2 separate regions of the Homo sapiens genome follow, and region 1 is linked to region 2. The links come from fine-mapping of genetic effects on gene expression. A gene starts in region 2. The other region holds a variant in brackets. All regions are shown on one strand. Distances are from middle to middle. Region 1 overlaps JAKMIP3 (Janus kinase and microtubule interacting protein 3). Region 2 holds the start of DPYSL4 (dihydropyrimidinase like 4).

The links.
Region 1: its variant is fine-mapped to the expression of DPYSL4 in whole blood (INTERVAL, PIP above 0.99).

What each region holds. Positions count from the first base shown.
Region 1 is chr10:132,137,923-132,153,232 of GRCh38, forward strand. JAKMIP3 (Janus kinase and microtubule interacting protein 3) reads left to right here. Exons shown (of 24, transcript NM_001323087.2): 9 at 197-256; 10 at 2,529-2,657; 11 at 3,998-4,126; 12 at 7,185-7,268; 13 at 7,596-7,658; 14 at 10,030-10,128; 15 at 11,490-11,588; 16 at 12,060-12,119; 17 at 15,036-15,101. Among named protein-coding and RNA genes, the nearest start is that of JAKMIP3-AS1, 41 kb to the right of the region's middle. RefSeq lists enhancers at 3,726-4,573, 4,574-5,420, 7,983-8,484, 8,485-8,984, 9,406-10,368 and 1 more. The variant C/T (reference allele first, on the strand shown) is at 7,115.
Region 2 is chr10:132,180,582-132,195,891 of GRCh38, forward strand. DPYSL4 (dihydropyrimidinase like 4) reads left to right here and starts at 6,367. Exons shown (of 14, transcript NM_006426.3): 1 at 6,367-6,521; 2 at 10,166-10,254; 3 at 12,077-12,261; 4 at 14,264-14,428. The coding sequence starts at 6,483. It overlaps JAKMIP3 (Janus kinase and microtubule interacting protein 3), which reads left to right. Exons shown (of 24, transcript NM_001323087.2): 24 at 1,776-4,277. It overlaps JAKMIP3-AS1 (JAKMIP3 antisense RNA 1), which reads right to left and starts at 6,171. Exons shown (of 4, transcript NR_184044.1): 1 at 4,384-6,171; 2 at 3,616-3,741; 3 at 880-963. RefSeq lists an enhancer at 7,086-7,587.

The sequences.
Region 1 (15,310 bases), 43 kb before region 2:
TCCGTGTCACCCTGGAGACAGGAGCTCCCCGAGGAGCAGAGCTGGAGCCAGGGCCTCCCGCTGTGGTGTGGGGACAAGCCAGCCCAGACACCGTCTTCCCTGTCATCCAAATGATGGCACACGGGCAGTAAACCGTGGACTGAAACCGGTGGAGCTGCTCTACCACTTACACAACCTCTTCAACTGGCTTCCGCAGGAGCGGGACAAGCTGTTAAGATTCCGGAAGCAAAGAAAGAAAATGGCAAAACTTCCCAAGGTAAGGAACAGCACACCGGCACGTGCGGAGAGTACGCCGGGTGTGTGCGGAGAGGACCACGCCCGCGTGTGTGGAGAGCGCTGGTGTGTGCGGAGAGGGGTGCGCCGGTGTACGTGGAGGGCGCTGGGTGTGTGTGCCGAGGACCGCGCCCACGTGTGTGGAGAGTATGCCGGGTGCGTGTGGAGAGGACCGCGCCCGCGTGTGTGGAGAGTACGCCGGGTGTGTGCGGAGAGGGGTGCGCCGGTGTATGTGGAGGGCGCTGGGTGTGTGTGCCGAGGACCGCGCCCGCGTGTGTGGAGAGCGCTGGTGTGTGTGGAGAGCGTGCTGGCGTGTGCTTAGTAGGAATCAGTCTTTGGAGATGAAAAAACAATTTTATTATTTCTAAAAATTGTTACTGTGAAATGACCAAAATAGGACCCAAAGAAAATATTCTGTTTATCATTTTTAATAAACTTGTTTCTTTCAAATTTCCAAGAGAAGATAGGAATTGGTAACAACCATACCAGCAACACTAGCAATGAAGAGGTGCCGGCTCTGGTGTCCTCACTGCCTGTGTAGGGTCCGAGTCCCCACGACCTGTGGGATGCACGGCTCTGAGGACGGGCGGCTGAGGCTGCTCACACTCACCCATCCTGGCTGTGCCACACACCCCACGCTCGCCTGTCCTGCCGTTCACCGTCCTCGGCCACACTTGCAGGCTGTGGCAGCCTCATCCACAGGCCCCACAGGGCAGACCCACGTCCCCAGGAAATGTGAACACCTGTCATCATTTCTCTACAGTAGAATCCTTTGTGATAAACCTATGATTTTTATTAAGGGAGGCTTTGGAGCAGCTGCCAAAGGACCTAACTCATCTCCTGCTTTATGTTGAGTGTGTGTGTGTGTGTGTGTATGTGTATGTGTGTGTGAGTGCGTGTATGTGTGTACATGTGTGTGTATGCATCTGTGTGTGTGTGCATGTGTATGTGAGTATGAGTGTGTATGTACATGTGTGTATGTGTCTGTGTATGTGTGTGTATGAGTGTGTGTGTGTATGTGTGTACATGTGAGTGTATATGCATCTGTGTGTGTATGTGTGTGTGTGTATGTGTGTACATGTGAGTGTATATGCATCTGTGTATGTGTGTGAGTGTGTATGTGTATGTGTGTGTGTTTGTATGTGTGTACATGTGAGTGTATATGCGTCTGTACGTGTGTGAGTATGTGAGTGTATGAGTATGTGAGTGTGTATGTGTGAGTGTGTGTGTGTGTTTGTGTGTACATGTGAGTGTATATGTGTCTGCATGTGTGTATGTGTGAGTGTGTGTGAGAGTATGTGAGTGTGTATGTGTGAGTGTGAGTGTGTGTGTGGCTTGTAAGCTGTCAGCAGTGTTTTCTCGCTGTTAGACTGTGAGATGCTCCTCGGTCACAAACACTTGCCCTCTGAAAGGTGGAGAGGAGGAGCTGTCCAGGCTCTCCCCGCTCGGGACCCCTCTGGGATTTGGAAGTGTCCAGCAGACGCCTTGGCCCTGTGAAGGGAGGACACAGGGTGTGGGGAGGCACACAGGACAGGGGCCAGTGGTTGGCGGGGAGTAGGGGAAGTCGGGTGGCCCTGGGGTCCCTGAGGGAGTTTTGCTGGAAGGTTCTGGCAGAAGAACTGGGAGGAGACCTGGAGGCCACTGTGGCCACGGCAGAAGGGACTGAAGAAGATGGCGGGCTTTCCATTTTGTAACACTTCTGAAGGGGACCCAGATGAGTCCCTCTTCGATTCTTGAAGGCAGGGGTGAGGGGGCCCTAAAGATGCAGACGTCGGGGTGAACCTGGAGGGTCCCCAAAGGCAGGGCCTCTCACACCAGCTGGCGGAGGACCCCGTTTTTGTTTGTATTCCAATCAGTCAAGGACTGAAACTTTAAAAAATGGAACAGAAATGCATCACTGGGAATGAGATCACACAGGGAAGGCACCCATCGTCGGTTCTGTTAACCCGGGTACCACCCTCAGGGAACCGCAGGGACGGTGCCCCACGAAGGGCCTCATTCCCCACCACCAAGGGCAGGGCCAGGACCCGCTCACCCACGGGACTCCAGGCCCCTTCCCCACCCGCCCTGCCAGCCTTGCCATAGAGCGCCCCTCACACCCAGGCCACCTCCTCGGCCTGTGCCAGGGACAGAGATGGGAGTGTGTCGCAGGGTGGGGCTGCGGCCCCCACCGTTGGGCAGCGGGAGGAGGCGGCGGGAGGAGGCGGCTGTGCCTGGGTCTGGTTTGAACTGACACGTCGCATTTTGGTCACAAGCCGGTGGTTGTGGAGACCTTCTTTGGATACGACGAAGAGGCTTCCCTGGAATCCGACGGCTCCTCCGTCTCTTACCAAACAGACAGGACGGACCAGACCCCGTGCACCCCGGACGATGACTTGGAGGAGGTAACGAGGGTCTCCTGCCGGGTCCTGGGCTTGGAGGAGGTAACGAGGGTCTCCTGCCGGGTCCTGGGCTTGGAGGAGGTAACGAGGGTCTCCTGCCGGGTCCTGGGCTTGGCTGGGCATGGGCTGCCGGCTTTTCACGGGGAAGCCCTTCGCGGCCCTCACTGGCACTGACCCGCTGATAGCTGACTCGGGCACGGTGAGAAGCTCCCATGACATGGCTTGGGGTGTGGGCTGAGGCCCGCTCTTGCTCCCATGAAGGCCAAACCATGCCTCCTTCTGCCACTGAGCCTACGCCCCTTCTGCATAGGGGTACGGTGAGCTCTCCCTTCCTAAGGGGCCTCCCCAGGAGGGTCTGAACCACTCATCAGGGAGTTTGGTCTCAGTGCCAAGAGCACATTAGGGTGAGGGGTGTTGAGCAGGAGTTTTCTTTCTGATAACAGCACAGGTGTGTCTGCCCACCAGCCCCTTCTTCCAGAAGGACGGCTACCCTCAGGCGCAGGCAGCCATTTCAGCACCAGGTCGGGGCTTGGTGTTGTGGGACCCAGACCCTGTGGCTGTGGGACAAGGAGTGGGGTCTGCAGTCAATGGCACAGCCAAGGATTGGGCCTCCCGTGGCAGACCCTGGAGGGTGGCCCAATGGCCATAGACCTGTTGAGGGATCTAAGACATCCTCTCACAGCCTCAGGTGCAGGGTTGGGCAGGGGAACTGGGCCAGGCCAAGGCTTCTGGGCTCAGTCACTCCTAGACGTGGCCAACCCTTCCAGCCCCGGGGGTCCACCGGGACCCTTTGAAGGCAGCAGCAGGCTCACCTGTCTTCTCCCTGGGGTGACGGGGGGCACTGCAGCTAGCAGGGTGAGCCTGCAAGAGTGCACCTGGGAGGAGACGTGCTGCCTGGGGTACTTTACCCCCTTCACAAAGCCCAGCTTTCTTCCCAGGACGTGTTTCAGCAGAGCAGAGCGTGTGCAGGCCTGGTTGGTAACAGAGGGTCTGCTGGGTCAGGGCAGCCTGGCTAGCAAGCAGGAGCCCCAGCTGAGCCCCTGGCCATGGCCACCAGCCCAGCAGGCTCACCCTGTCCTCAGCCGTGCAGCCGACTCAGCTCCCACCCCAGGGCTCGGTGCTCCCCTCCCCAGGGAAACCTTTCTCCAAACAGCACTGAGTCCCCAGGCAGCCGCCCCTCCCTGCACACTGGAGCAGGTCCCCTCCCTCATGCTGCTAGAGAGACCCCCCCATACACCATTTGATATCTGGGGAGAAGGGAAGCCCCGGGGCCCCGCCATCGGAGGAGGTGCTGGCTACTGACACTGTGTCTCTGTGCGTGTGTGGCATCCGTGTCTCTCCAGGGCATGGCCAAGGAGGAGACGGAGCTGAGGTTCCGGCAGCTGACCATGGAGTACCAGGCCCTGCAGCGTGCCTACGCTTTGTTGCAGGAGCAGGTTGGAGGGACGCTGGACGCAGAGCGAGAAGTTAAGGTCTACGTGACTTCCACCGCGCGTTCCGGCCCCCCTCGTGCCTTCCCGCTTGACCCCGTGGCCTGGGCTGGGACACCCCCCTCACTAGCCCTCCTGGGCCCGGGCCCCTCCTCTCCTGCCCTTGCCTGCAGTCCTGGTGGTGCCCATGGAAGCCGATCAAAACCAGGGATTGGGGATCCCGGTGCTGGGAGTTGGCCCAGGTGGGAGGGACTGGCCCAGAGCGGTGCCAGGCACAGGTGTGAGTAAGGGTCCTGGGGGAGGCGGGGTGGTAGTGGTGGCAGGGGCCCACAGCGCCCAGGGTGGGCCTCCTTCCAGACCACCTCTTCCACTCTTGGCAGCATGGCGATGGCCCGTGGCAGCATCGAGCTCGGTGTTGAAACTTGTGGAGGTCATTCATCCTCAAAGGCTGAGCTCACACAGGCTGTGCCTGCCCCGGCCCCGGCCCCGGCCCCTCTCCCCCGGCCTCCCCACTGGGCAGCACCCCAGCAGCCGTGTCCCTCCGCCCACTTCCCTGGCTCACCTTAGCGTCGTCCCCCAGGAAAGGCCTCAGTGTGGCTGGCGGGTGCCCTCTGCGGGCCGTGGAGGGCAGTGCAGGCACCAGGCCTCGTGGGGAGAGCGTGGGCCATGGGTCGGGGGTCCTCTTGCCGCCCCACCCTCCCTTACTGAGGCTCGGAGGGGAAGCCGCTGGAGGACCTGCACCTGGTACCCCTCACAGCGAGACGGGCTGCTTTCCGGGGGAGCTGAGGGGTTCTCCAGAGCAGGCAGCTGTGGGGTGTGGGGTTCCCGTTGGCCTCCCCACCCCAAAACCACCCTGCAGGGCCAGAGATGCCAGTGTCTGGCAATTCTGCAACTTAGGGTGGCTGAGCTGGGTGGGGGACGGACCTCTTGGGGCGAGGGGAGAGTGTCCACAGAGCATCCCCAGCGTGGTCCACGCTAGTGCCCCAGGGAGCCGCCAGCCTCATCCTCTGTCCACCCAGACCGCCCTGGTGACGTGGCTGGTTTCCCTCCTGCCTTCCTGGCACCTCATTGGGGACGTCTGTTGTGAAAACTAAGAGAGAGCTCCACCCCTCTGTGCCCTCCTCCTGTCCTGAGTCGGGGTGGGGGGGGCTGGCCTTGGAGGGGGCGTCCCCTCCTCAGGCTCGGAGAGATTTGTCTCCGTAACTGGGGACTTTAAATATCGCCTCTTTCACTTTGACTTAATTTTTGCATGACCCTTGGAGAAAGGAAAAAGTCAAGGCCTCGGTTCAGAGCATCATAAAGCACAGCAGCCCCGAGACATCCCAGAGCCTCATGGGCCCAGCCTTTCTCCCTCACAGCGGGGGCGGGGCAACAGCCGCATCCTCCTGGCCAAGCTCGCCAGGAGCTGGAGGAGCTGGAGAAAGCATCCTGTCTTCCCTTTTTCCTGTCGGGTGCCAGAGAAACATTTGCTCGGGGGCCACATGGAAGCAAAGAACTCAGAAGCTTTGCTTAGAGAGTAAAAATGTCCAAACTGCATGTAAAAAAAAGTTTAATGTCATTTAGAATCAGAGGAAAATCTGATGCCGAGAAGTGCTGCATGGTTATTTTAAAAACTAGAAGATACAGAAAAGATTAATGAAGAAAATAGACTAGCCGGCATCCCACAGTCTGATTCTGTATTATAATTGGAAATGTCACTCCTCACTGTGGAAATCGAGGAAGCCTCAGGATAAGGAAGGGGGCAGGAGAGGACAGGCGTCTGAAGACATGGACGTGGGCCCATCCCTGCCACGGTCCTGAGGCTGCAGGGGGCCCACAGCCCTCTGTGGGCTCCGTTTCCCTGTCCGGAAACAGGGTTAGGACTAACTGGAATTCCCTCTCTGCTAAGCATTCTCCAACCCAAGGGCTCACATCCACGATTGTGACCCCTTAAGGGAGGGAAGAGGCTGGGGTGATGGGAGGAGCCCAGGACGGCCTGGGGGCAGGGAGCTGGGACCAAGCACTCGGGGGCGGGCACCACAGGTCACGCCTTCGCCCACCCCCCACCCCGGCTGATGGATCCTCTGACCCTGCGTCCTGTCCCGAAACGCACCTCTCCCTTGGAAGCTATCCCCAGAGAGAGCAGGAGCCACTGTGGCCCCATGGTTCGGAGCCACCACAGCAAAGTGAATTAAGGGAGGTGGCTCAGACCTCGGCTAGAAGCCTCGGTGGCACTCGGGAGGGACTTCACAAACCAGGATGCGGACGGGGGAAGCGCCAGGGCTTTTCCTGTAGATGTGGGGCGGGCTCTGGGAGTCAGTTAAGGAACACAGAATTCAGGAAGGCAGTGAGCCCTGGGCTGAGGCAGCTCCCGCACAGGCAGCCACACCACCCGGGGCTTCCAGAGGGGCAGCTCCAGTACAGGCAGCGGCACCACCCGGGGCTTCCAGCGGGTCCATGTGGAGAGTCCCTCGAACAAAGCCCTCTGGCCGGCACCTGGCAGGGCTGAGCACACGCTAGGCCTCAGTCATCCTCATTGGCTGTGTCATCCTGTAAACAAAGATTTCTCCTAACAGGCTCTCAAAATCAACCTGCAGGATTTCCCCTTAGAATCTAAGTGAGATCTCTTGCTTCAAATAAGCCTTAAAGTTCTCCCTCCAGGGCTGGGCGCAGTGGCTCACTCCTGTAATCCCAGCACTTTGGGAGGCTGAGGCAAGTGGGTTGCTCGAACTCAGGAGTTTGATACCAGCCTGGGCAACATGGTGAAACCCCGTCTCTACAAAAAATACAAAAATTAGTGGGGTGTGGTGGTGCATACCTGTGGTCCCAGTTACTCAGGATGGTGAGGTGGGAGGATCACTTGAGCTCGGGAGGCGGAGGTTACAGTGAGCCAAGATTGTGCCACTGAGCTCCAGTCTGGATGACAGAGCCAAACCCTGTCTCAAAAAAAAACAAAACAGTTCTCCCTCTCTTAGAAAGCATCTCTTCCAAAGGAAGGGCGAACAGTCACTTCTCAATGAACTGAACCAAAAGACAGACCCTTCTGACGTC[C/T]CACGAGTGTGTGTGCTGTCTGTCCCAGCTTTTAGAGAAAATTTGATGTATCTTTCCTCCCGTCCTACAGACCCGTGAGCAGCTACAAGCCGAAGTGCAGAGGGCACAGGCGCGGATAGAGGACCTGGAGAAGGCCCTGGCGGAGCAGGGGCAGGTGAGCCTGCAGCCATCTGCACGGGCGTGGGGGCACACGTGGGTGGGAGGTATTTGGCTGTACCTAAAGACAAGCTTCAGTGGTGCGATCATAACTTTCTACAGCCTTGACCTCCTGGGCTCAAGCCATCCTCCCACCTCAGCCTCCTGAGTAGCTGGGACCACAGGCATGTGCCACCACGCCCGGCTAATTTTTGTATTTTTTGTAGAGACGGGGCTTTGCCACGCTGGCCAGACTGGTCTTTGGTGTTCTGCCACATCACGATTTAAACGTTGGTTTATGAGTTCCTCCCTCAGTGTCTTTATTTCTTTCAATTCCATTTGCAAGGATATGAAGTGGATTGAAGAGAAGCAGGCACTGTACCGGAGAAATCAAGAGCTTGTGGAAAAGGTGAGCCCCGAACCCCTGGAGGCCCTGGCAGGACTCGCTCTATGCTCCTGGGGGTTGCAGTGGTCCCTGCGGGGCTGAAGGATGGAGCGAGGGCTGAGGCTTCTGAATGGCTGTCCCAGGCCCCTTCTGCTCTGCTCCCTCCTGCGGGACCCCATCAGGAGCCCTGGGGAGGAGGATGGCCTGGACAGAGGGAGCTGGGGCCTGTTCTCCTGGGTCCTGTTCTCCTGGGTCCGGGCAGGCCCCTATCTGCAGCAGCATCTCCATTCGTGTCCCGTTGTGCTGATGGTTCTGTGGGTGGGCTGGTTAGAGCATCGTGACAGAGGAGCTTTATTGAGACCACTAGAATCATCCCCCTGGGAAGCCTGGCTGGGTCAGGGAAGTCTCCTTCCAGCAACGCTTGTGGGGAAGCTGAAGTCCTCGGGGAAGAGCCCATGGACCAGCCTGGCTGAGCAAGTGCGTGTTTGAGACTTCGGCAAGGCGTCACCTGGCAGGCCCAGGTCCAGGCTCTCTTGGTCCCAGATGACAAGAGGCTCCTGAAGTGCTGCCCCGCCCCCACCCCCACCCCCACCCCCACCCTGGCCCGGGCTTTGTGGTCTGGAAGACTATCAGACGTAAAACAGATCAGAACATGCGATGTGTGGCCAGGCTGCTCTCAGTGGCCTTAGCTTCTGCCTGAGGTGCAGGGAAGGGAGTGCAGGTTTCTCTCGGCACCTCCCACCACATCAGGCCCACCTGGCTCAGCTGCTCCCTGCACTGGGTTAAAGAGGGAGTCACAGCACCGAGGGCCCTAGACTTAGGTCTGGGCAGTCCAGGGCCATCCCAAGAGGGGTGCACCTCACAACTGTGGGAGCAGGTGATGTGGCATGAGGCAGGGGCGGGGCTGGCTACGGGTCCAGGGGCAGGAAGGCCAGCAGGGCTGTCATTACCACGCACAGGTGAGGGGTGCTCTGTGTGACCCCCACCCCACTTGTCCATGGGCAGGGACAGGTGTCCTGAGGAGGCAGCGATGTCTCACGCTGGCAGGTGCGGCCCTCTGGGGAGAAGCTAGGGTAGCCTGGCTGATGAGTCTGATCTGTGCCAACAGGACAGAGCTTCAGACAAACAGAGGCGTCCAATGCAGACTCTGCACTGCTGCCAGCCCAGGGCTGGTCGTGCCCTCTGGGGGTCCTGCTTTAGGCTTGGTTTGCATCTTGAATGGCGAACGACACCCCCATGTTTCCCGTGGACACACGGAACATCTCTTAAATTAGAAGTGCGTTTCCACAGGGCTCAGCACAGTGCTGTGTGTGCCACGTAAATGCCGGCACAGGCAGAGATCCACGTGCACTTAAGGGCACCCACTTGAACACGCACACACGTAAATGCCTGCGTGCACACTTGAACACGCACACACGTAAATGCTGGCATGTACACTTGAAGACATGCACACAGAGATGCTGGCACGCACATGGAAATGCTTGTGCACGTACACACATGCGCATGTGCACACTTGGAGCCATGCTTTTTTCTGGCTACACTGGGTGCAGATCACATTCCTGGCCCTGCAGGTGTTCCACGGCAGGCCCACTGTGCAGCAGTACACAGCTGGCCCTGCAAGGGGGTCCAGCTCCCACTGAGCCGGCTCACTCCAAGGATGCAATGCTTCTGAGTTTATCTTGGTCCCCTGAGCATCAGAGCAGGTCCCTCAGTCCCTGGAGCTCAGCTTCAGGGGATGGACACAGCTGTCTGCCCCTGGTGGCCCCTGCCCTCATGAGGCTGCTGAGGACACATGCCGTGGGCCGTGTCACTTGACCCTTTGGAAGGGGTGGGGGACTCCTGCATCCGGTTTACTCGTAACTGGTTCCGTTTAAACAGCTCCTTAATTAGCCAAGTGAATTCCGGTGGCCAGGCAGCCGTGGTACCCGCTCCTTCCATTGGGCACAGCCTGGGCTCCAAGGGGCACCCGGGAGCCACCTGGGACATTTACCCTCCACGGCCTCCCTTCCTCATCCTAGCTCAGAGCCCCGCTAAGGCCCCCGTGCTCCTGGCTTGTGATGTACAGCCCCTGCTGGAGACGTTTATCCTTGACGGCCTCCCTTCCACATCCCTGTCCAGGGGCCACCCAAGCTCAGGGCCCCGATATGATCGCCAGGCTCCTGGCTTGTGGTATGCGGTGCTGCCTGCCCAGCCCCACCCACCACCGGATGGCTAGGCTATCTCACTAGGACAAACCCAAACATACCGAGGGCTGTGAGGCGCTTCCAGGGCTGGGTACCAGGCCAGCCGGCCTCCCCGGCAGCCAGCAGCTGTCCCGTCAGCCTGGAGTTGACCTCCCAAGACCTCTGGTGAGAGAGAACCAGACCCCTCACCTCATGCATCTTTTATGTTGCAGATCAAACAAATGGAGACGGAAGAGGCTCGGCTCAGACACGAGGTGCAGGACGCCAGAGACCAAAACGAGCTGCTGGAGTTCAGGATCCTGGAGCTTGAGGTAGCTGAGTGGATGGCCAGCACTGTGGCCTGTGGCTGTGTCAGGGATCTAGTCCTCAGCCTTCCTAACCCACACAAAGCCCTGAACATGAACATGAACATGAACATGAACCCAAAAGGCTGCGTCAGGGAGGAAAGAGGCAAATGGCCGTAAACCGCCACCTCTTCATACCGGCCGTCCAAACATCCAATGGGGAACATGGGCCATGGAGCTCAGTGTCAGGCAGGGACCACCTCTTCATACGAAGGATGAGGCCAGCCGCCCAAAGCACGTGTAAATATGGGGGAAATGGCCCGTGGCGCTCAGTGTCATGCAGGGAAAACAAAACAAAAGCACGACGGGTGACAGTGCAGCATCTGCTCCAGACCTGTGGGGTGAGGAGCTGGCACGTCCGTCCTCCATCTGCCCGTCCTCCATCCGCCCGTCCTCCATCCACCCCCAAGGAGCCGGCACGTCCGTCCTCCATCCGCCCGTCCTCCATCCGCCCCCGTGGCCCTGCTGCAGCTGGTGTGGGGCTCTGTCCAGGCCTCCGCCGTCGGCAGACGTTTGTTTCTTGCCCCTGAGTGAGGACAGTGGGGGCCACGCGGTGACTGGGAGCCCTTTGCCTGTGCCCTGCCATCCCTGGCCCTGTGTCCTCTGCCATGACCTGCACAGGAGGAGGGAGGAGGGGAATCCCACGGGCAGCTCAGGCTGGGTGTGGGCAGCCACGTCGCTGTGATTGTTTCACGGCAAGGGTGGTCCACCTGTGGGGCTGGGAGGAAGTGGCCCACACAGGGGCCGCCCCTGCCGAGCACCACACACAGCCCCGAGGCCTCCGTCTCAGGCCAGCACCTGGAGCCTCACAGTCCAGCTGGAGCCGCCTCTTAAGAGTCTGCCCGTCCACTGCCGGAGGACAGGGCAGCTGTGTGGTCACTCCATGTGTGGACGACCTCGGCCACGTGGGCCTGCCTGTGGGGACAGTGGCAGCACTGCCAGCCTGTGTTCTCCAGAGGCTCCTCTGGTCAGACCTGAAGGGGATGCAACCTGCAGCCCCTCCCCTGATCCTCCCCATAGCCCCTGGGATTCACTGAGGGATGTGCCCGTGGGCTCAGGGTGGGACTGCCCAGGCCACGTGGCCAGAGTGTGATGAACTCTGCCCGGCACATCTGGGGTCAGCGAATATACAGGGGCAGTCCTTGTGGGCAGGTCCAGGTCCAGTGCAGATTCTGCCACCACTGCTGCCGCTGCGGTTTGGTTTTCATAAATGCTGTGTTGATCCCTGGTTCCATGGTCTTGGCCCGTGTTCCTCAGGCCCCAGCACAGTCCTCTTAGAGGGAAGGGATGGGAGGGGAGCGGCTCACCCTTCTGTCCCTCTGTCCTAGGAGAGGGAGAGGAAGTCACCCGCCATCAGCTTCCACCACACGCCCTTCGTGGACGGGAAGAGCCCCCTCCAGGTGTACTGCGAGGCCGAAGGTGTGACGGTGAGTCCCGCCCCTCCTGCCCACTCCGCCCCCACCTCACCCATCCCCCGCCCCACCCCCTCTCCGCCCCCGCCCCACCCCCCTCCGCCCCCGCCCCACCCCCCTCCGCCCCCGCCCCACCCCCTCCGCCCCCGCCCCACCCTCTCCACCCCCGCCCCACCCCCTCCCTGCCCCACCTCACCCCCTCCCTGCCCCCACCCTACCCCTACCCCCCCACCTCACCCCTGCCCCACCTCACCCCTGCCCCCACCCCGCCCTACCTCACCCCTGCCCCCACCCCACCCTACCTCACCCCTGCCCCCACCCCGCCCTACCTCACCCCTGCCCCCACCCTGCCCTACCTCACCCCTGCCCCTCCCCTCCCCCTCCCCCACCCCCACCACCTCCCCTCCGCCCTTCCCTGCCCTGTCCTTCCCCACCCCCTCTGCCCACCCCGTGGCCACTCACCCCTACCTGTCCTCTGTGCCTTAGGACATTGTGGTTGCGGAGCTGATGAAGAAGCTGGACATCCTGGGCGATAACGCCGTAAGTGTATGTCGCTCTCCTGGCTTGTGCATGCCTCTTACACCCACAACCCCCAGCCCAGCCCCTCTGGGGTCCAGGAGGCCCTGCCAGCCTCCCACAGCCCTGCCATGGGCCACCCTGCCTGAGACCCTCCACTAGGCCCAGAGCCTGCTCAGAATCGGAGCCTTCCTCACACTGCTCCAGGGCCCACTGGGGCCTCTGCTGTGCACACCTGGTTCTTCCAGCTGATGGCACTTCCCATCACATTGCCCAGCTTCTGGGATCTCTCAGCCCTTCCATACTTGCCATGAGGATAGGGGGCTGTTGCTCTTAGACAAACCAAGACCCTTAGGGGTTCCACTTCCTTGGCTTGGGGGAAAAGCAGACTCTATAGATAACTCCTAAATTTCATTTGGGGCAGAGTTCCAATTTCTATAGCAAACTCCTTGAAAGAATGTTAATTACTGAGTGGGCAAAATAATGCACCTCTTCATCCCAATTTTCATCCGCCCATTACTAATCCTCTGCTCTCCATCCATTTATTCCCCATCAATGCACCATCTACCTAGCCCTTCATTCATGCTCTGTCTTATATCCATCCATCTATCTATCCTGTGTAATCCATCCATCCATCCTCCATAATCCATGTATCCATCCTCCACAATTCATTTATCCGTCCTCCATAATCCATCTATCCGTCCTCCATAATCCATCTATCCGTCCTCCATAATCCATGTATCCGTCCTCCATAATCCATGTATCCGTCCTCCACAATTCATTTATCCATCCTCCATAATCCATCTATCTGTCCTCCACAATTCATTTATCCGTCCTCCATAATCCATCTATCCATCCTTCATCCTTCATCTATCCTTCATCCATCATCCTTAATCCATCCATTTATCCATCATCCACAATCTGTCCATCCATCCTCCATCTATCTATCATCCATCATCCCTAATCCATTCATTCTCCATCCTCCATCTGTCCTCTATCCACCATCCTCCATCCATTCCTTCTCCATCTACCATCCTCTACCCATTAACCTTTCACCCATCCATCCATCTCCCATTCATCCTCCATAATCCATCTATTCATTCTCCATCCATCCTTCCTTCATCCTCCATTCATTCATCCATTCTCCAAAATCCATCAATCCATCCACCCTCCATAATTTATCTATGCATCCTCCATCATTCATTCATTCATCCATCCTCCATAAGCTATTTATCCATCTTTCCATCCTTCATCCTTTATCCTTCCACCTATCCACATCCCCTCCCTCCATCCATCCATCTATCCATCCCTCATCCTACCTTCATTGACCTTCCACTTCCTCCATCCAGTGCTCTGCATCCGAGGACTCCCTTCTCCCCTTGCCTGCCCAGCCCCTGGGGAGCAGTGAGGCACAGGGCAGGGGTACTTTCAGCAGGGAGGCTCTGGGTGTGGGTCTGCTTCTCTCAGAGCTGGGGGCTCCACTGTGGTCATAGGTGGCCGAAGAGCCACAGCAGGGTGGCCGTGGACCTGACATCTCTGGGGTCCAGTCCTGGGTATCAGCCCCATCATGAGGTCTTGGGAACTGTATTGGGCAACTCTGATTCACAGTTGGAGAAGCTGAGTCCCCAAAGGCACTGCCCAGGGTCACAGAGCTGATGTAGTGGCAGAGTTGGGGGTACCCAGCCCCACCCAGGCCTATTTCAGGGTTCCTGCCCAGCCCCATAGCTGTCCACCAAGAGTGCCACTGAGTGTGACAGCCCTGCAGTCATCATGCAGCCTCTGAGGCCATTGTCACAGAGCCCAGGGACAGAGGAGGTTGGATACTGGAGGGCTCATGGCCAGGCTTAAGCTCAGGGGACCTGTGGAGATGCTGGGGAGCTCTTGACAGTGGGCTGACAGTGGCCCTTCAAGCCTGGCTGTGCAATCAGTGTTGACTTCACATGCAACTTGTGGTTTAATCACATCTGGGTAGATTCCCTCAGTCACCCTGAAGCCACCTGCTCAGCCTCCCCAACTTAAAGTGTTGGGAGAGGTCTGTGGCCTGCCCAGCCCTGCCATGGGAGAAGGGAGCAGGGCAGGAGAGATGAGGGCACCTGGCCCCAGCCATGCAGGATGAGGTTCTTGCCTGAGTCAGGAGTGCAGCTGGCCCCCACCATGGACTACAGACTGAGCCTGACTCCCCCCTGTGGGAGACCCTGTGCAGACTTTGGGGTTGGGGGACAGCAAGAGATGCCTGCTGTTAGGGAGCTTGCACTCTAGGGAGAGAATGGCATGGACAGGGCTTTTGGAGTGAGCTGGCAAGAATCAGAGAGGCCCCACGAGCTGGAGTCAGGCAGCCCTGGTCTGGATGCAGGCTGCAGCAGAGTCTGAGAGTGTGAGGTGCCCACATCGAAAGCCATAATCACTCTACCCAGAAGGGCCACCCAGGGGCCCCTCGGTTGGGGAGGAAGCATGAATAAAACATGCATAAAAGAGACAAAACCTTCCAGGGATTCAGCCATTTCACAGCCATGAACATGTGGTCTCTCCTCCACTGTTCCCAAGTGGTGTTTTAATAACCACAGGTGCATATGCAGAGGCTGGCTTTAAACACAGAAGGGGACAGAGGCTGGGCAGAGCAGCAGCCACTGCTGGGGATGTATTGGTGGCCTGCCTGCATTGAGCAGCGCATACGCATCTGCCTCAGCTGGTTACCTAGACCTGGTGATTACCAGCAGAGGGAGAATGAGAGAAAACAAAATCGGCAGCACCCGGAGGGAACAAGCTCAAGTCAAGGGTGTCAGAGATGCTGGGAGGGAGATGTCAGTCAAAGCACTTTTTAGCTCTGGCCCCCACCCAGGCGTCCCCAGTCAGCCTCCCCAGTCAGCTTCCCCATGCATCCATCACTCACCCTCACCCCCAAAGGCACTGCTTCTGACCGCACCTGTGTTCTGCTTTTGGGTGCAGAACCTGACCAATGAGGAGCAGGTGGTTGTCATACAAGCCAGGACAGTCCTGACCTTGGCCGAAAAGGTAACAGCAGCTGTGTGGACAGTCGGGAGAGGGCCGGGCTCCTGGGGTCTCCTGCCCTGCTCAGCTCAGAGGTGGTGATCTCGGGAGGAGGGCCTGCAGGGCCGGGTTTGGGGGGTCCACTAAGCCCCGTCTGCCCTGGGAGATCTGACACACTCAGGTCAGACAGCACCCACTGTGCATCTTTGCAAAGGACAGATTCGGCTCCACTT
Region 2 (15,310 bases):
TGCGCGTGTGTGTGTGCGTGCGCGTGTGTGTGTGCGTGTGTGTGCGTGTGTGCGTGCGTGTGTGCGTGTGCGTGTGCGTGTGTGCGTGTGTGTGCGCGCGCGTGTGTGTGCGTGCGTGTGTGTGTGCGCGTGTGTGTGCGTGTGTGTGCGTGTGTGCGTGCGTGCGCGCGCGTGTGTGCGTGTGTGTGCGTGTGTGTGTGTGCGCGTATGCATGTGCTGTGAGTGGTGTGTTGTGTATGCATGTGTGTATATATCGTGTGCATGTGTGTGCTGTGTGTGAGTGGTGTCTTTGGGCATGTGCATGTATGTGTATGTGTTGTGCATTGCATGTGCCTGTATGTGTATTTTGCATTGTGTGTACACATGTACAGTGCATTTGTGCGTATTGTGTGGGCATGTGTGTGTAGTGTATTGTGTGTACATGCATGTGCAGTGTGTATGTGCTGTTTGCACATGTGCAGGTATGTGTATTGTGCATTGTGTGTACGTGCACATGTAGTGTGTGTGTGTGAGTGGTATGTTGCGGCCATGGATGGGGCAGAAAGTCTCCTGTTCTGGAAATAGGGCAGTGAGTGGAGTGTGCTGACAATGGAGAGCAGCAGCTGGCTCTGGAGAGGGATCAAGTGACCACAGGAAACCAAATGCTCTGGTCTTGTTCCTTTAATTTGGGGAGTGAGTTTTTAAAATTCAGCATCATATTTTCAACAAGACCTCTGTTCTCTATTTGCATGTGCCTAGTTCATACTCCAGGCAGTTGATCACATAATTCAGAGAGGCATTGACAGGGTGGGAGTGTTTCTGGGTAGGTGTCCAGATCCCCGGCCCTTCTCAGCCTGGAAGTGTCACCGAGGGAAATCCCTGTTTTACATGGGGCTTCACCTTTTCCCTCTGTAAAATATGAGGGCTGGACTGGCAGGTCCCCTTCCTCCTGTACCTTCTAGAGATCGATGGTTCCGGGACAACCTATTTAGAAACGAACCCGATTAAAGGCACAAAGAACAAGGTACTATGTTAACTGCAGCAGAGATTTCAACTGTAACGCTTAATACGGGAAGAAGTAAACATGTATGTGTCATTTGACTACATTTATTTTTCATTCTGTTTGAGGTAATATCTTCTTACTTAGAAGTTAGGTTAAATCAAAAACCAAAAAGCTCTTCAGACCTCTCCTAGATTAGAAAACCGTGGTGTCTCTACGGCCGGGCCCTCTGCCTCTGTCCCAGCGTGCCCTCACTCCCGCCCCTCTGCCTCTGTCCCAGCGTGCCCTCGCTCCCGCCCCTCAGCCCACGTGGCCTCCCACCCGATGCTGCCATGCCCCAGGGACTGATCCGGGGCCCGCCCTTGTGAAAAGCAGATCCTTCATAACTTCTTCAAAAACATGAAAAAATGGAAAGGTAATAAAAACTTTGAACTTAGCAGAGGCCCACTTTCTAAGCAATGAGGGAAGTTGGGTAGAAACCGGGCTGCTGGCCCAGACATGGTGAGAAAGATCCAAGGTCACTTCTGTAGGGGCTTTGTGAGGAGCATGGACTCATCTTCCTGAGAGTGTGGCCTTCGGTGGGTGCCAGGTGCGTCTCCCGGGCTGGAGGCTCAGGACGTGGCGCTGTAGCTGGTGCTGGACCCATGAGGGCAGTGCCTGCCATTGGCTCAGTGACCATCCTGTGCAGAGCCAGTGCCTGGTCAAGGCCCCAACTGCCTTGAGTGCTGACCTGTGGTGGGTCACACACATTCCCCAGGTCGTCGCACTAAACGGCGTTTTCTCCACTCTTTTTCAGAGAGGAAGCAGTGCATTGGTGAAGGCAACGTTAGGTGTGATTTCCATTCCTGCTGGGAGACCCGGGACGCAGCCCGGGAGCTTCGTCCAGCCTGTGGATGGAGCCTGACTGGCTGCAGATGGAACTTCTGTGTCCTCCCACCCTAGGTGGGCTAAGGTTCTGCTCTCAGAGCTGAATTGACAGGAGGTGTGTGTGTGTGCTCACTTGTGTGCACAAGCATGCGTTTATGCATGTTTTCACGCAACCAGAAGAGCCATTCGTGGGATTTAGCCATTTCGAGGCACCTAGAAGTTGAGGCAGCCAGCTGTGCAGCCAGGTGTGACTGTTACTGGCAGCATTGTATAAAAGACACGACTCAGCTGCCGTAGGGAGGACTGGGTTGTCTGGAAGTATTAGGCTCATTTTATATTTGTGTCAGAAGAAATGTCTGACTTTGGGGCAGATGACACGGTGGCTGCGGACCAGGCATGGCTCCCTAGGTTGAAATCAGGGAAAAGCTAATAGTATCAGACAGATATGCTTTTTCTTTGGTGGCTGCAGGATTTTTGCTGGAAAATGCACTATTAATCAGCACTTGTCCAAGAAAGACCCATCCATTTCTGTTGTCATTCAAGCCACAGTTCCTGATTTACTCGGCAAGATACTGGGCCAGTTCAGTGTCTCTAGCTGAGCCTGACCTCGGGGTTTGCGTCTCGAGTCTGAAATCCTGTTTAGTCCTCTGTGCATAGTTTTGTCTCATTTTAACGACTGCATCTTCTTGGCACATTTATTATACTCACAACTGAATGGCACACAATAGCCTTGTGTTAATAAAAGCTACCGTGGCGCTGTGGGTGAACCGCTGGGTTGAAGTCCGATGGACTCTACGATGCAGGCATCCAGAAATATGTTGTAACTCTACCTGGCTCCCTGCCAGCCTGGCCTCCTCCTCTGGGAGAGCTCCTGGCATGGTCCCAATGTGTACCTGCATGGGAACAACAGCTGCATGGGCCAGCTGTTTCGGATCTAAAGATGTGCAGTGAAACTCACATTCCCAGATTCACATCCCTCATGTTTATTTGGGTCATCATGGTTTAGCATGTTGTATATATGTCTGGAGCACTTCATACACCTCTATCCACCACAGACACTCTTAATCACAGTTCTGTAATAATAATAAGGCAAACTATACGGCAAAGAGAAGCATGTAAATATGTACCAAATCCTTATGAAGTTGTAATTGTTTATATGTAAAAAGTATGTATATAGGAACGGGAGAAGGTGCAAGGAATGTGCTGAATAACATCCAAACTGCATCGCGTCTCTGCCCCATTCCTGAAAGCACACATCTAGTTGGAGCGTCAGTTCCTCTCCTTAGATATCATTGTTTTCACTCGTCTATCATAGGCACCTTCTTTACATCTGATTACAATACCCAGCATTTCAGAACTGGGTTTTTGCCCCCAAAAAGGTAAATATGAGCATTTATCACTGACTCCTCCTGGTCCAGTGAGCAGCAGCAGAATTCAAGTATTTAAAAATAAGGTGCATTTCTAAATTGCAGGCTATACCTTCTTTTCCAAACCAATGGGCTAGAGTGAATTTCCTCCAAGTACTTGGGCTGTCTTACTGCTAGCTCTTCTAACAGGGGAAGTCTGTATGAATGCATCACCCCCTAATAAGGCAAGAGGAAGGACCCTGAAATGTTGCCAGAAATGTACTGTTACATCAACATTTACATTATATTAACATCATCACACTCTGTGTTCAACACACAGAACAACATAGATACTTTAGTTTGTCTAAAGTAAAAATCCACATAAATAGCAGATTCCTTTGTTGACACCAGTGTGTTGTTTACCTTGTGCCCATGGTCCAGATTTTGAGCTGGAGAAGGACTATGGCTGTTCCTTAAAGTCTCTGCCCTTGCAGAATCTGTAGCCTTCAGGATACCCCGAGTGCCTTACAGGGCTTGTGAACACCGATACTAGAAGTCAAAAAGAAGAGAGTGCCCAAGTGTGGGTTTGGAGGCACTGACGCATTCGCCAACTCACCGTCATCCCATCCTTGAAACCCTGAGAGAGAGTGTGTGTTTTATCACAGTAATGGAATTCAGTTTAGCCTCAGGAAACTCATATTGTGAATATAGGTATCAAATCATATATTTGTTTACTGTATATTTTTTAAAAAGCTTTATTGTAAATTTATGCAAAAACTAACCGGGCCTGTTTTCTTACGGCGGCATGCCAGGTAGTGTGTGTATTCTCCCAGGCACTCCCTTCATAGTCACCCTCTAACCACGTGACATTCCGTTCCATGCTAAGCAGTATTCACAGGCCTAAAATAGGTTTGTATGGTGATCTACAAGATTTTACAAATATTTTTGTATTGTGATTCCTATGATATATACCAGAGAATTTTTTACTCGTTTGTAAATTATTGTACAGTTTTAATAAAAAATGTTTTAAATCTTAGACGATTAAAGTCCCCTCAAAGGTATTAAAGTTTGAACTGAAAGCCGTATGAGCCATTTCTGCACTTCTGAGTTCATTCTCTGAACAGTGCCTCTGCACACCAGAAACGGAGTCCGCGCCTTCCGCCCACTGTGGAGGAAAGCCCCAGTTCTCACCTGCGAGATCACCTGGAGGGCAAGCTCTGCAGTCGGGTGCCTGGCAGCACCTGGCTCCGGTCGACCACCTGGGAGGCTCCCTCCTGTGGCTGTTGGTCAAATGTGAACCATGGAAGAGATCAGACAGTTAGGAAAGGGACGGAACTTCTGCACGTGCATAAGAACAGTTGGTGATATTTGCCGTGGACGGTCCCACACAGGTGAGTAACAGACATTGCATTAATCATTTAGGGGAGGGGGAGCCCAGAGGAGGACGAAGGGGTGGGAAGCTGCTGGACCTAGCTCTGCTGGCTCGGGCCCCGCCAGTACTCGAGGTCATGGTGACTCAGTGGCCAAACTCTGGCTTTGAAATGCGGACTGCGGTAACAACGCAAAGGCCTGAAGTCTCTGGGTTCGAATTCAGCTGCTGCAGGCTGGGTAGAATGACAGATGGAGTGACAGCATCGCCCGTCACTCCTGTCTCGCCCCAAGCCTCTAACTCGGCTTTAAGGGAGATCAGCAGCAGTTTGCGTGGGCGGGTACACCCCACCCCCGCGCGCCCTCCACACTCGCCCAGGGTTTCGGAGTCAGGGCTTTCTTGTCTGGCGTGGGACGGCCCAAGGGGCCTGGAAATGTGGCCGGGATTCCCACAGCGGTTTCTCCGGTGCGCGCTCCCCGCCCGGCCTTCCCAGCGCCCAGTGTGTCCCGAGGGCGAGCAGCCACGCGTGGCCGGGACTAAGCGAGCACCCAGGGGCCAGAATGGGGCGTTCAGCACCCGCTACGTGGACAGAGCCAGCTCCGCGCAGCGCTGCCGGGCGGCAGGAGGCGGGGGGGGAGGGCGCGGCCTCCAGGTCCGCCCAGTGCACCTGCCGCGCAGACCTCGCTACAGGAGGCTCCGAGACCGGATTCTGTCGCCCGCTCCTGCCGTGACCGCGCGGCAGCCTCAGGAGCCCGCGAGGCCTCTGGCCCGGCCCAAGCTTGGCTGCGTGTTCCGCTGCGTGGAGGACGCCTTCGAGAGCAAGACGCTGCCGCTGGACGCTCTGGGCGGCGGCCGCCCGGGCCCTCGGGTTGGGAGGCGAGTCTGCGCGGCGCGCGGAGACCCCTCAACGGCCGCAGCAAGTCCCCGAGGGCAGCCCGGCGTGGCCCAGGCCCGGGACCCCCAGCAGGTAGTGGCCGCGGGACAGAGGCCGTGGGCCCGGGCTCGGACTCCCCGAGACCCTCGCACCCGGAGGACGCCGGGCGTGGGGCTCCCCCGCTCCCCCCTGCGGGGTCCTCCCTATCCGTAAAGGTCCTGAGCCTTCTGGGTCCTGCGACCACCCCCCACCCCCGCGAGGTCCCGCCCACCACCGCGTCCCGGTCCCTGGGGAGCGCGTGCGCCTCCTTCTGTCTCTCTCTCTCTCTCTCTCTGTCCTATTCGGGCCCCTCCTGCCCTCCGTCTCTCGCGGCCAGCGTGGAACAGCCTCGCGGGGTCACAGCCTGGCGCTCGGACCCTGGCCCGGGTCATCTGCGAAGGAGCCGGCTTTGGCCAAGGTGCCTTCCTGGACGGGTGTGGTTCCCAGAGCGTCGCGGCCCGGGGTTGACTGGCTCGGAATCCCGGGGCCTTGGGCGCCTCGCGTCTCCTGGGACCTGGGTTCCGCGCTGGAGGGCAGCGGGGGCGCGGGCGGGGCCTGGCAGGACGTGGCCGGACTCTCTCCCTCGCCTCCCCGGGGTGCAAACCCCGCGCACATCAGCTGGAGCAGGTTGAAATCCCCACCCAGCGCTCGTCCGCGGGTCTGCGCGGGGGCCCGGGGTGCAGAGATCAGACCCTGCAGCGGTTCCAGCGCTGGGGGGGCTTTAAAGCGAAGGAGTGGCTGAGGGCGGGGGCGGGGCTGATGGGCGGGGTGAGGCGGGGCTCGGGCTGGGGCGGGCCCTATCGGGGGCGGGGCCTGCCGGGGGCGGAGCCGGGGTGGGGGCGGGGCCCAGCGGGGGCGGGACCGGAACGGAGCCGTGCGGCCCCGCGCGCTCGCAGTCTGTCTCCCGCCGTCCCCACGCACGCGTCCCGGCTCACGCGTCCCCCCGCCCGCCCGCCCGCCCGCCCGCCCCCGCTTGTGCCGCCCCTACCAGAGACCCCCAGGAGCAGGATGTCCTTCCAGGGCAAGAAAAGCATCCCCCGGATCACGGTGAGCCCGGTCCCGCTTCGCCCGGCGCCCCCTGCCCGCCGCCCGGAGTGGGGCCTGGACGCCGGGCGGACCCTCCTGGTCTTGTGCGTGGGTGGGGGGTCCCTGCCTTTGCGTCTGGTCCCTGTCCTGGCGCCCGCCCTTCCCTGCTCGGCTCCTTCGCGCCCCAGGGTCCGAGAGTCCCCGCTAGCGCCGCGCAGACCCCCTTAAGGAGCGGGGCGCCCAGGCCCGGCCCGGCCCGGCCCTGCCCGGCCCTGCCGGGCCCTGCCGGGCCCTGCCCGGCCTTGCCCGGCCTTGCCGGCTTCCGGGAGCCTCGGCTGCGCCCGGGGAGAACCCGGGGCCGGGCGGCCTGTCCCTCGGAGCGCTAGCGGCTCCTTTCTCCCACGGCGGTCGGGTGGCGAGGCGGGCGGACGCGGCCCTTTGTTGGCCCGGGCTGGTCCGGGGCGCGGGGAGATGCCGTTCCCGGCGCAGCCCGTGGGTCGCCCGCCCCTTGGACGCACTGGCGCTGCGTCGGGAGCTCTTTGTCCGAGACAAAGCGATTTAGCCCCGGCCGCTCTGGCCGGAGTCCCTGGTGGCCCCGAACCCTTCCAGTAACCTGGGTTCAGCGACTCCAAGGAAAGCGAGCGGTCAAGGGCCACTGGCCGGGAACCCTGGCAGCCCCTGAACCTTCGAGAGCAGAGACCCCTCCCCAACACCCACACGCACCGGCGCGGGAGGTCCCGCTCTGCCAGAAACAAAGCCTCCCCGCTCGGGCGGGGGGAGATGGGGGTGGGAGGAAGGAGGCTTCGGGACCCGGCAGGACCTGGGCGGGGGAGTCCATGGGGTCCCAGACCCGACTCTGGACTTGGCCTCGGCGGGAGGGCCGTGGGGTCTGACCTCTGGCATTAGCTCGAGCCGTGGGCTGTGGGCTCCACTCCCCCAGACTCTGAGCGAGGAAGGAGCCCTCCCCTCTCCAGATGGGAGGGGCTGCTGCCTCCAGAGGGTTCTGCCCGGCTGGGTCTGGTCTTGATGCAGGAGGTCTTGCCAGTCAGCTGGCATGTGGGGGTCGAGTTTGGGGGTGGCAGGAGGACCCCTTCCCAGGGGAGGTCAGGCAACCATGTCAGTGCGGAGGGGCAGCTGCTTCCCGGGAACTTTCACCTCCATCCGGATGAGTGCAGTAAGAAGAGCACAGCCCCACACCCCAGCTGCGTCTCCTCTGGGTTCCAAACCCAGTCTCAGTGCGGGTGCCTGAACACTTGGGCGCCTATGAGCAGAGAGCCCAGACCACACGTCTCCTCAAGCCTCCTTCTGCCCGGTTGCGTTTTCTAGGGCTTCCTTGAAAATGCGTGGGTCCCCTGGGAGGGGTGGAAAGTGAAGAAGAGGGACAGCACCGGGAAGGCAGCCAGGGCCTGATGCGGCCACAGAGGCTCTGCAAATGCATGGTGGTGCCGGGTCAGGGCTGAGCCTGGCGCTCAGCTGGGACTGGGCAGGAGGAGGAGAGGTGCAGCGGCTGGGAACAGACAGCTCTGTAGACCAAGGGTCTAAAACTTCTTCCACAACCAGCCCGAGAGTAAATGTTGTCAGCTTTGCGGACCACGCTGTTCCTGTCTCAGCTGCTTGGCCCTGCCAGGAAAGCAGTCCTGGACATTTAGGAAGTCGATGGGCACCACTGTGTTCCAACAAAACTTCATCTGTGGATGCTGCAGTGTGAACTTCATAGAATTTTTGAGTCATGACATACTCTTGTTATTGTTTTCAGTGAATATACAAGAACGATTCTTAGCCTAGGGCTGTATGAAGAGAGGTAGAGGGTTGGGTCTGGCCTGTGGCATAGTCTGCCAACCGTTTGTAGACTATGGGGTAGAGGTTGACAAGTCACTGGGATCCTGAAAATACAGCCCCACAGTTAGATGTCAGCAGTGAATCCTGTAATGGAGTTCCTAGATAATGAACTCCTTCTCATTCTGAGAGTTTTACCAATTGTGCACTTCAGTTTAATGCTCTTGGCTTCAGACTGACGGTGCGTGAAGGCTCTAGCCCCAGGCTAGGGCCCTGGCCACCTATGGGTGGGCCCTGGAAACCCAGAGCAGGCGGCCGGACCTCCCTGTTAAATGCAGACGGTCAGTCCTGCCGGGTCAGTTGCAGGGCGTGCTGAGGCGCACGCCAGACGGTGGAGGGAAAAGCGTTGCCGAGTCCAGCCCGTGGGCGCGTCCTTCTCCACCTCCTTTCACTCCTTTTTTGTGTTTCTCTCCCCCATTCTCCAATGAGGTCAGATCTTCACCTCTGACGGTCATGCAGAGTCCCATCAGTGACACCCTACTTTCTGCCTAATCTTCTGCTTCCCGGCCATCTGGTAGGATTCTTAGAAGTGGATTTATGACTGCCAAGCACTGGAGTCAATCCCTGTCTAACGCCACAGCTCTGTGCTGCCAGGGCTGACCTACAAAGAGCGGGCCTCACCAGCCTGACGCTCTGTGTCCCACTGGGAGTGCGTCCGAGCTGCACTGGAACCGAGGTCACCCCATCTCTTCCCCATCACCCCCATGGCCTCTTGGTCAGCAAGTCCTGCCCTCCTGACTCCCAGCCTCTCTGGAATCCACTCTCCTCCCGTCCCTTCCCATAGTCCTGTCCCAGAGCCCCTCATCTCACTCAGAAATCACCCCAGCAATGATCCGGCTCCCACTGTTACCTGTCACAAGCTACTTTCTAACACAGCAGCCAAAGGTGATCTCTTTAAAACATCAAACCAGGATTGAAACCTGCTTAAGGCCCCCAGTCAGGGGGCAGCCATGGAGTCCCCAGGCCTACATATCCTGCCCCTGCCAAGCTCTGGGCACCGACTTGCCTCTGGCACCACCACCCCACCAGAAGGTTCCATCCCTCGGCCTCCTCCCAGGTCTGCTGATGGCAGCTCAAGCCCTTTCCTGCCCCAAGGCCAGGCTGCTTCCTGGCTGGAACGCTCGCCATGTCTGCCTTGCCCCTGTATCAGCCACCCTGGCCCCAGAGGTCCTTCTCCCAGCCCCTCTCTCATGGCCCTGCCATGGCGCCCTCACTGTGCTCTGCGCATTCGTCACCGACTGTGATGATCTGTGCACGTGTGTTTTTGCTGCCGTTGGTCTCCCCTCAGTGGGAGGCAGCCTCCTGGGGTGGGGACCATGCCTGTGGGGGCGCTGTCTGCCTCCGCCTCCTGGCACCATCACTGGTCTGTAGTGTTTGGGTGGAACCAAAGTCCAGCTCCGTCCGCTCCCAGCCTCCTCTGCGTGGGTGGAAGACAGGGTGGAGGAGAGCAGGATCTCTGAGGCTGCACAGGAGGCCATGAGGCAGCGTTCGCCTCCCACCTCAGGCTGGGGCTCCTCAATCCAGTGGTAAATCAGAAGATATAAATATGACCTGTGGCACTACCACACTTTCACCAACACGGGCTTTGCCCTCAGCGAGGTCTGAGCAGCAGCTGTGGGGCGTGCGTGGCACTTCCAGGGGCAACTGTTTTTGAGCGCCTGGTGCCACTTCTTGGGGAATAGTAAGCCGCTGCAGGCTTTTGTGCTCGTTTTTACGTCTAGAAATTTTGCCTGAATGTTTCAGTCATAATTTCAGAGGAAGGAGTTGCACCAAGAGTGTTACTGAGTAACTCAGTTTGGAGAAAAATTACCCTTTGTTGTTCCCGATAGAGTGACCGCCTTCTGATCAGAGGTGGGAGGATCGTGAATGACGACCAGTCCTTTTACGCTGATGTGCACGTGGAAGATGGCTTGATAAAGTAAGTTTCCGCCGAAAATGAAAATACGTTCCCAGCTCGTGTGTACACGCTGGTCACGTGGTATCCAGGCAGTTGAAAGTATGTTCCCAGCTCGTGTGTACACGCTGGTCACGTGGTATCCAGGCAGGTGAAAGTATGTTCCCAGCTCGTGTGTACACGCTGGCCACGTGGTATCCAGGCAGTTGAAAGTATGTTCCCAGCTCGTGTGTACACGCTGGTCACATGGTATCCAGGCAGGTGCAAATAGTTCCCAGCTCGTGTGTACACGCTGGCCACGTGGTATCCAGGCAGTTGAAAGTATGTTCCCACCTCTTGTGTACACACTGGTCACGTGGTATCCAGGCAGTTGAAAGTATGTTCCCAGCTCTTGTGTACACACTGGTCACGTGGTATCCAGGCAGGTGCAAATAGTTCCCAGCTCGTGTGTACACGCTGGCCACGTGGTATCCAGGCAGTTGAAAGTATGTTCCCACCTCTTGTGTACACACTGGCCACGTGGTATCCAGGCAGTTGAAAGTATGTTCCCACCTCTTGTGTACACACTGGTCACGTGGTATCCAGGCAGGTGCAAATAGTTCCCAGCTCGTGTGTACACGCTGGTCATGTGGTATCCAGGCAGATGAAAGTATGTTCCCAGCTCGTGTGTACACGCTGGTCATGTGGTATCCAGGCAGATGAACATAGTTCCCAGCTCGTGTGTACACGCTGGTCACATGGTATCCAGGCAGGTTAAAGTATGTTCCCAGCTCGTGTGTACACGCTGGTCACGTGGTATCCAGGCAGGTGAAAGTATGTTCCCAGCTCGTGTGTACACGCTGGTCACGTGGTATCCAGGCAGGTGAAAGTATGTTCCCAGCTCGTGTGTACACGCTGGTCACGTGGTATCCAGGCAGGTGAAAGTATGTTCCCACCTCTTGTGTACACACTGGTCACGTGGTATCCAGGCAGGTGCAAATAGTTCCCAGCTCGTGTGTACACACTGGTCACGTGGTATCCAGGCAGTTGAAAGTATGTTCCCAGCTCGTGTGTACACGCTGGTCATGTGGTATCCAGGCAGATGAACATAGTTCCCAGCTCGTGTGTACACGCTGGTCACATGGTATCCAGGCAGGTGAAAGTATGTTCCCAGCTCGTGTGTACACGCTGGTCACGTGGTATCCAGGCAGGTGAAAGTATGTTCCCAGCTCGTGTGTACACGCTGGTCACGTGGTATCCAGGCAGGTGAAAATAGTTCCCAGCTCTTGTGTACACACTGGTCACGTGGTATCCAGGCATTGACTTTTGGGTGAAATCCATGGGAGAGGTTTCTTCTTTTCTAAACCCATCCTTGGCAGCAGTAAGCTGGTGGCCACTGTCAGAGCCCCGGCCTTTGGTGAGGGCAGAGGTATGTTGGGTGGCTGTGGGCGAAAGCAGGACACCAGCTTCCACGTTTCTTTGTTCATCGCAGCACTTAGTATGGTGCCTGGCTCATAGCAGGTGCTTCCTAAATACTGGTGCCCACATCTATTAGCGCACCTGCTTCCGTTTGTCAAGCTGCTCCGTCCTCTAGTCAAAAAAGTACCAACCAGGGACCTGAGTGGAAAACCACAGGGCGTGGCGTCTGCGTGAGGCTGGACCCTGCAGTGACCGTCCTGAGCTGCGCTGAGTGATGCTTTGCTCCCTGGCACTCCCGAGGAGCTAGTCCAGTGAGTGGCCGGCCGTGCTGGCCTTTTCCTCGGGGTCTGGAGCTCATGCAAACCCTTTAGCTCTGCTGCATTGCTGGGAGCCCATCTGGGCTCTGACCTGGGCTCCCTGTAACCAGTGAAATCTCTGCTGCTTTCAGACAAATCGGAGAAAACCTCATCGTCCCTGGGGGCATCAAGACCATTGACGCCCACGGCCTGATGGTCCTTCCTGGTGGCGTTGACGTCCACACAAGGCTGCAGATGCCTGTCCTGGGCATGACACCGGCTGACGACTTCTGTCAGGGCACCAAGGCAGCGCTAGCAGGAGGAACCACCATGATCTGTGAGTGTCTGGGTCTCCTCCTCTACAGGGGGCAGCCAGCGTCTGCTGCCCCTCTCTCTGGCCAGGTGTGTGTGGGAGGAGGAGTGTCGCCTAAAGGTGCCTTTCTCAGCTGTCTGCCTTTATTGCATCTGTCTGAGAACCTGGAGTGCTTTTCTAATCCCTGTGTCTCACTCTGGGTGTTTCTGTGTGGCCAGTGCTGGAATGCTCCTGGGATTTCCAGGACTGGAAATCAGTGACTGACGTGTGTCCACTTGTTCTTCCCTGGGCACTAGTAGCCAGCTCGGAGTTGGGGGTTGGAAAACTCAAATGCCTTGGGCGAGGGGAGGGGTCATGCTGTCTGAAATGCCAGATACATGTTTGACCTTGAGCCACATGCCTCGGAAGCTTCATATCTGGAAGGTTCTTGCTCATGTCAAGAAGAGTTAAGGATGGAGACTGTATTTTTAGAAAAAGATAAAAGCAATGCTCATTATTATCCCATCAAAAAATAACCCGAGTTGCTATTTCTGTAGTGCTGGCTGCGTGCCCGGCACGGGCTCTATCCTGACACCCATCGGCTCACATGCTCTCCTCCTAAAACCCTCTGAGCTCAGCCCAGCTGGGCTCAGCTAAGCCTAGTTTAACAGGTGGGTGAGTGGAGTCCGCCTGCCCACCACGAGCACGTGGTGAGCTCAGGAGGCAGGACGAGGCCTCAGAGCCTAGACCTTGACTGCACTGTGTGGCCTTGGGTGCCATTCACTCTGCGGCGTCCGTCTGGCACAGACATCGCTGCTGTGGTTGAGAACGGGTCTGAGGAGCCTAGCTGAACCTGGTTGTATGGTTTTCTAGCTGTGTGACTCCAGATAAACTCAGCTGGCTTTTATAAGTCACACTTTGTTGATCTGTAAAACAGAACACTGGCCTCATGAGCTTCTGAGGCATGTGTGAGTTAATGCACGTCAGTTGCTTTGTGTCCCTGGCACACCGGGGAGGGCAGCTCTGAGGACCCTGAAACACCTCGCGGGACATTTAGCCATTACCAAATCACAGCTTGGTTTGGTTTACTCAGCCACAAAGGGAGAAAACACCAGCAGCAGCCCATCTTGCAGTCTGAGGAGACTGGCCACTGCTCGCGCCCTTCAGGGGGCGGCCCAAGCCGGTCAGGACGTCTGCACAGTCGAGACCACCTGCCTCGTGCCAGTGCCAAGGCACCCGGCCAGCTGTGGGTCCCCGCGAAGACAGAGAAACACCACAGACACGAGGCTGGCCTCTATCCTGCCTCTGTCTTCCTCGGCCTGCAGGCCCAGGCTGGCACTGTGGGTGGCTGCAGGGAGGCTGGGTGCCCACTTCATCTTGTTGGGATGAGTAGGGGCCCGAGGGAGGGCTGTGCTGGAGGAAGGCATCCCTGGCGGGTGCGCCCTCCTGTCCGACCACCTGGCTTGGAGCTGTGTCTGGCTGCACCAGGAGAGGCCAGTGAGCAGTGTTCGGGCCTTGGGTGTGTGGTTGGTGGGGCAGCAGCATGATGGCTGTGTGCAGGGGGCAGGATGGCCCCTTTCAAGTCTTGTGGGGCACTCGGGAAACCAGCCCAGCTCCCACTGTTCTAGGAAGGCACCCAGAGGTGGGGCCCAGCACCTTGGACAGCGCACTGGCCCAGCCTGGCCCTCGGGGTGCCTCACCCAGCCTGACAGGAGCTGGAGGCAGGGCAAAGCCCCGACCTCCTGTGCTCCTCCAAGTGCGATGTGGGAGTAGGGATGGTTTGGGGTGGGGCTTTTCCTTTCTCCCCTCTCCCTTCTGTGCTCAGAGGGTGGCTGGGGCACTTGGGACAGAAGGTTCCTCTTTGAACAAAGCAATAGAACGGGTTCGTGGCAGCGTCATCCTCTCTCAGGGGCCGGTGGCCTCTGCTGTGTCTCCCTCAAATGGTCCTCTGGTCTCTTGGGAACATGAAACAGAATCTCCCATGGAGGAGGCAGAGGTGGGAACCAGGGACCAGTGGGGGAAGCTGCTGACCATGCTGCCTTCACAGTGGACCACGTCTTCCCCGACACGGGTGTGAGCCTGCTGGCGGCCTACGAGCAGTGGCGGGAGCGGGCGGACAGCGCGGCCTGCTGCGACTACTCCCTGCACGTGGACATCACCCGATGGCATGAGAGCATCAAGGAGGAGCTGGAGGCCCTGGTCAAGGAGAAGGGTGAGGGTGGCTGGAGGGGCTGGAGGGCGGGCATGGAGCCTGGTGGAGGAGCCTCTGCCCTGACCCTGTGTTCTGCCGATGGTGCTGCTCTGCCCTGGGGGCTGGTGTCCAGGTTTGAGTGGAAGTTGGAGAAAAGTCATTTGAAGGCCCATCCCACCTTCAAAGGCTCTAGACCAAGAGGCCTTCTCTTTCCCAATCCGAGGGACCCATCCTGGAATTGTCCTCCTGATGAAAAGATGCAGCAGATCCGTCGTTTCTTAGAAGAGAGGCTGCCCAGGGTGGAAGAGCAGCAGTTCCCCAGTCTCCTAGCATCTGGGGATCCTTTCAGAGGGAGACCCTTTTAAATCCATATCTCTTTGTTGTCACCAATGCTAAAACAGATCAGTCTATAAACAAGTTAACATTTTTCCCCACAAAAAACCCTGAAGCTAAAACTACATCAGAGTTTCATAGTGGGTTTGACAAGTGGCATATCTGATTATAGCCGATCTCTCCTAATCTGAGTCCGGCCCACAGCTTCCAGCCTGGAGGTGGGGGCGGGATGGGGTCCAAGCAAGCCCAGGAGCCTGTCAAGGCCCTGGCACTCCCAGGGATGCCTGCTACCCGTCCCCTACAGACCTGAAGGAGGCAGGGGCATTTCTTCAAGGCCATTCCTCTGGGTTCCCATTCCTCAGAGGGTGACGGTCATCACATAGGTGCCCCTTGATGTCAGGACCCCTCACCTCCCTGCCCGGGGGCTGGTGGAGCCCGTCAATCCTCAGTCCCTGGGCCTCACTCCAGGCAGCTGCTCTGCCACCCATGCTGTTCTGTGAGTGGACTCGGGAGGCCTGTGGCCTCGTGTCTCAGAGCGGAGGTGGAAGCAGGGCCTGCACCTCCCCTCAC